Regions from separate parts of the Homo sapiens genome. Here region 2 is linked to region 1. The links come from fine-mapping of genetic effects on gene expression. A gene starts in region 1. The other region holds a variant in brackets. All regions are shown on one strand. Distances are between the middles of the regions. Region 1 holds the start of GTF3C5 (general transcription factor IIIC subunit 5). Region 2 has its middle 20 kb from the start of CEL.

What was found. PIP is the estimated chance that this variant, and not a neighbour inherited with it, causes the effect. A credible set is the group of variants that fine-mapping cannot tell apart.
Region 2: its variant is the best candidate, but not a certain one, in a credible set for the expression of GTF3C5 in cerebellum (GTEx, PIP 0.63).

The regions. Positions count from the first base shown.
Region 1 is chr9:133,029,170-133,031,993 of GRCh38, reverse strand. It overlaps GTF3C5 (general transcription factor IIIC subunit 5), which reads right to left and starts at 997. Exons shown (of 11, transcript NM_012087.4): 1 at 830-997. The coding sequence starts at 982. It overlaps LOC105376306 (a long non-coding RNA gene), which reads left to right and starts at 1,572. Exons shown (of 2, transcript NR_135119.1): 1 at 1,572-1,844. RefSeq lists enhancers at 977-1,236, 681-1,332, 1,567-1,816.
Region 2 is chr9:133,080,327-133,083,228 of GRCh38, reverse strand. It overlaps the pseudogene CELP. Among named protein-coding and RNA genes, the nearest start is that of CEL, 20 kb to the right of the region's middle. The variant C/A (reference allele first, on the strand shown) is at 1,499.

The DNA of each region.
Region 1 (2,824 bases):
TGTTCTCCATTTTAAAGTTTAACCCCTCGTTCTTTACGCCTCCTTGCCCCTAGTTTCAGTAAACAACCCCTTCCTAGCTTCTATCACCTGCTCTGTCCTTAGTCATCCTGAGTCACCTGCTCTGTAACCATCCTTCCCACCAAAACTACTCACCCCGCCACTCAGGCCTGTGCCCCTGCCCTCTTTGAAATAACCAATCGGAATTAGCTTAGACTGTGCGGTCCAACCCTAGCCAATATGGGAAAGACACAGCAGTAGAGACTAGCTGTGTAAGAGATAGGAACCCCTTCCCCTTCCTTGTCGGTGTGCTCTCGCCATTGCTCCATCCGCAAGATGCACCCTTCTATAGAAGGAAATTTGCCTTGCTGAGAAAACTGTTTGCCAGAGTGCTGATTCTTCTTTGCGGCACCCAAAATTTATTTCCAACAAGCCTGACCAACATGGTGAAACCCCCTCTCTACTAAAAAATACAAATTTAGCCGGGCGTGGTGGCATGCGCCTGTAATCCCAGCTACTCTGGAGGCTGAGGCAGGAGAATCGCTTGAACCCTGGAGGCGGAGGTTGCAGTGAGCCAAAATCGCACCACCGCACACCAGCCTGGGAAACAAGAGCGAAACTCCGCCTGAAAAACCAACAAAAAAACAAAAACAAAAACAAAAATCCTTCCCTTCTTTGTTCTGTTGGCTCTCTTGCAGCGGCCAGAAGAGCGAGCAGCACCCTTCTGCGTAAGTAAATTTGCTAAATTTCCCTTGCTGAGAAATCCTTTGAGTGCTCGTTTTCTTTGCGACTCCGAGCTCTTATTCCAACACCGAGATTCCCAGCCCCTTACCCGGGAGACGCCTTCCTCGCCGCCCAGAGTCGGCAGCATCTTAGCCACATCACGCACCACTCCCGGGTACTCCACGCACACCATGCGTCGCTCCCGCCTCAGCTCCACGGGGACGGCGGCCCCCAGCCCCAAATCGGCCGCCTCCGCCGCCATCCCTGTGCGTCTGGCAGGGCCCGCCAGGGTCCGTCCCACAAAGTACTCCCAAAGGCCTCGCCTCAATTGTTCCGCGAAGGAATCGTTCCGGGCTCCCTCACCGCTCGCGTCATCCTAACTCCCCGGGCTCAGCAAGACGCGAGGGCCTCCAGGGAGCAAATGGCCCATGGGAGGGCCCATGTCTTCGGGAAAACGACCGCCGTGTCCTCGACTTTTTATTTAAAATTAAGCGAGTTAGTCCACCGGGCGGGGCAAGCACCAGTCTCTCCTACTAGCCAGCGAGGGACCCGGAGGATAATAAGACACAAACCTCCCTCGACTTCAGCCAATGAGAATCCGAGGGCCGAGCGAGTTTTTTTTTGAGCCAATGAGAAGTCCGGAGGAAGCTAGGTCCCACCTTCTCCTCCAGCTTCGTACGTTTTAACCAATAAAGAACTAGAGTTAACCACGTCCCAGCCCTCTTCTGGGTATTCCACCCAATGACACCTCGGGGGCGGGCCAGAGGCAGACTTCCGGCCCGCCTGCTTGGTGGGGAAAAGGTCCCGGCTGAGAATTGATTTCCGCATTGGGTCGGCCTGGTATTCTGTCGGTGTTGGCGCTTCTTCTCCCAAGCTCTTGCAGCCCCCTCGGGACTAGGTTTCCAACGGCGCTTGCGGGGGGCCTCGCGGAGGTGGATGTGGAAAAGGCGAGCGCGGGGGAACTGTGCTGTAACCATCGCCCCGCCTCCACAGAAAGCCCCGAAGCGCCGGCTCGGGGCCGAACGCGGGCATCCGGCGTTCGTCTGTTAGGCAGGCAGACATTAAGCGCCTACTGTGTGCTGGGCCCTACTCAAGACCCAGGCGGGGAGAACGGCGTCTGTCCGGTAGGCGCCCAGGGCTGCTGCAAAGCCCCGGAGCGAGGAGTGTGGCCCCTCAAACAGGGAGGAGATGAGGTCCGAGGCCGACCGAGGTCAGAGACCCGCACCCACGAAAAGGGTCCACCCGTCGGGCTGGCTGCTTCCCAGTGCCGTGGAGAGCCCCTGAAGGTTTCTTTTTTTGAGAAGGAATCTCGCTGTGTCGCCCAGGCTAGAATGCAGTGGCGCTTTCTCGGCTCACTGCAACCTCCGCCTCGGGTTCAAGCTATTCTCGTGCCTCAGCCTCCCGAATAGCTGGGATTACAGGCGCCTGCCACCATGCCCGGTTAATTTTTGTATTTTTAGTAGAGACGAGGTTTCACCATGTTGGCCAGGCTGGTCTTGAACTCTTGACCTCAAATGATCCGCCTGCTTCGGCCTCCCCAAGTCCTGGGATTACAGGCGTGAGCCACCGCGCCTGGCCCCTTGAAGGGTTTTATGCGGAGCAGTGATCCCATTCATGCATTTGAAAGACCTCTCTGGCTGTTGTGTGGAGAACAGATCAAAGGGGGAGAAAGTGAGTTCAGATAAACCAGCTCCGAGACTGCATAATCCAGTCAAGAGATGAAGGGACTGGGTTTGAGAATATTGGGAGATGAGAATCATGGCCCAGCACAGTGGCTCACGCCTGTAATCCCAGCACTTTGGGAGGCTGAGGCGGGAGGATCAGTTGAGCCCAGCAGTTGGAGGCCAGCCTGGGCAACAGGGGAAGACCCCATTTCTACCAAAAAATACAAAATTAGCCGGCCATGGTGGTGCATGCCACAGTAGTCCCAACTACTCAAAAGGCTGAGGCAGGAGGATCCTTTGAGCCCTGGAGTTGGAGGCTGCAGTGAGCTATGATCATGCCACTTGCATTACAGCTAGAAATTAGTAAGAGCAAGTGACCCCTTGGGTATGGGTACCCCGTTTCTGAAGTGATTTTTTTTTTTGAAAGACACGATCTCCCT
Region 2 (2,902 bases), 51 kb before region 1:
GCCCAGTTACATTTGAATTTCAGGTAAACAGTGAATTGTTTTTTAGTATGTTTCATTTTTTTCTTTTTCTATTTTTTGAGACAGAGTCTCGCCCTGTCACCCAGGCTGGAGTGCAGTAGCGTGATCTCAGCTCACCGCAATCTCCACCTCCCAGCTTCAAGCGGTTCTCCTGCCTCAGCCTCCCGAGTAGCTGGGATTACAGGCACCCACCACCACGCCCGATTAATATTTGTATTTTTAGTAGAGACGGGGTTTCACCATGTTGGCCAGGCTGGTCTCCAACTCCTGACCTCAAGTGATCCACCCACCTCGGCCTCCCAAACTGGTGGGATTGCAGGTGTGAGCCACTGCGCCCGGCCCATAGAAATTTGTTTCAAATATTGCATGGGACATACTTACACAGCAGTTCTTGGCAGTTTATCTGAAATTCAAATGGAATTGGGCATCCTGCGTTCTACCTGGCACCTGTCCCCATAGAAATGAGCGTGAGTGCCCGGGATCTGCTGCGGGGCTGTGCTGGGCTCTTTCTCAGCCTGGCCCGAAGTTTCCAGATCTGATTGAGCGAGAGAGCAGCAGGACCTGCCCCTCTGCTGGGCTCTTACCTTCGCGGCACTCGCCACTGCCCAGCAGCAGGTGAGGCCCAACACAACCAGTTGCAGGCGCCCCATGGTGAGCATCAGCCTCTGGGTGGCCCTCCCTCTGGGCCTCGGGTATTTATGGAGCTGGATCCAAGGTCACATGCTTGTTCATGAGCTCTCAGGCACTCCCTCCCCTCTACACCCTCAGGTGCAGGGAGATCCAGTTTTCCCCAAACCCACAGTGCACCTGTGCAGGTTACCACTTACCTGGGAGCAGAGGCAGGTGGCAAGGTGGCGGGTGGTAAGGGGGATGGTGGGGCCGGGCAGGGTGCACAGTGCCCTGCCTTCTGGTTTGTTCACAGGGCTTGGTGTCACTGTCAGAGAAAAGGGCATACTTTGTCTCCATGCCCTGCCTGTCCCCTAGGTCCCCAGAGGGGCTTCACAGGGGACCAAGCACGTGACTTCTGGGACAGAGAGGGTGACATGCTGTGGGCCCCCCACCCAAGTGGCTGACCTTATCTGTACGAGCTTTTCCTGGGGCCATGGAGCAAGCAGTCCAAGCTGGGTGCGGGTCCCAGAGCAGCACAAAGCCGTCTCATTCAAGGGTGGGGAGATGTCACCATCCAGCCTGATGCATCCTGGGAGGGAGGACTAGAGGCTCAGGGGGTGTGGGTGGGGGGGTGCGGAGGCATCTAGCCCAAACTTGTGGTCTTCCCTGAGGAAAGAAAGGACACAGCCAAGGCCCTGGGGCATGCCCAGGCAGAGTGACAGGAGAGAAAAGGAGGCCAGCGGGAGGGAAGGGAGAAGGTCCTGTGAGGTTGTGGAGGAAGAGGAGGCCACTCGTATTTTCTGTGAACAGGTATTAATCCTGGAGCCAGGAAAGGCTCTGAGAAGTGAAAGAACACCACGAACAAAGTCTT[C/A]AGATGGGGCCTGTAAGCTCAGCCAGTGTGAGGTCACCCTCACCGAGACGCTCGGTGGCAGCTCCAGCCACCGCACAGCCCTCTGCAGTGATGGGAACAGGGTGAGGGCAGCCAGAGCCTTCCCACCCAACAGTCCCCCAGGAGACACTGGGGCCTGTGCTTCCCACACCAACCACACTCCCGTTCTGCCACCCCTGCGGCCGGTGCCAGGGACCGAGTGGACCTGCAGAGCCACGTCTGTCCCTCTGTCTGTCGACCACAGCCGGTGCCAGCAATTCAGGAGGCCTAGTGGGCGAGGGAGGCTGGGGAAAGGACTGGAGGGTGGGAGGAGGAGCTCGGCCACAGGAAATAAGGGGCCTGCAGGTGGCTGGGGCGCCCCAGGGCAAAGGCATTTGCCTCAGACCTTTGCCCGGCTACTCTAGTTCTGAGAACCTGCCCTAAATAAAGGAGGTAATTCTGAACTGGGAGACATGCCCTTTGTGCTCCAGGATATTCACTGCAGTGTCATTTACAGTGGCTAAGGAGGAAAGGGGAGGGCAGAGGGGAGGCAGCAGGGAGAGGAAGGAGGTGGGGGAGAGGGCTGGGGCAGGGGAGAGGGAAAGGAAGGCCCCACTTTTTATATATATACATTTTTAGAGCAGATTTAGGTTCACAGCAAAATTAGAAGAAGGTTACAGAGATTTCCCGTATGTCCTCGCCCCAACCCAGTCTCCCCCATTATCAACATCCCCCACCAGGGGGTACAGCTGTTATACTTTATGAACCTACATTGACATGTCATAATCACCCAGAGTCCACAGATTTAGGGGTTTTTTTGTTTGTTTTGAGACAGGGTCTCACTATCACCCAGGCTAGAGGGCAGTGGCACAATAACAGCTCACTGCAGTCTTGAACTCCTGGGCTCAAGGGATCCTCCTGCTTTAGCCTCTCAAGTAGCTGGGATTACAGGCGCCCGCCATCACACCCGGCTAATTTTTGTATTTTTAGTAGAGAGGGAGTTTCGCCATGTTGGCCAGGCTGGTCTCGAACTCCTGAGCTCAAGTGATCTGCCCGCCTCAGCCTCCCAAAGTGCTGGGATGACAGTTGTGAGCCACTGCGCCCAGCCCCTAACCTAGTTTTGGCCATGCTCTGAGCCCACATTCTTTGTGGAACCTCAAGATGGTATCTAAGCTCTGTACTCTGTTGAGAAGTTGGGTCTCCATTTCAAAGGCTCCCGTGTATACGCATTAAACAAATATGTATGCTTTTCTCCTATGAGACAATCTGTCAGTGATTTTTCAGTGGTCCTTCAGAGGGAGAAGGGGAAAGCTCTCCCTTGGTCCCCATAGTATCATCCTGAATAGTTTGAATGCTCTAAAACCCCCCTGGGCTCCATTGATTCATTCCTTCCTCACTCAAATCCCT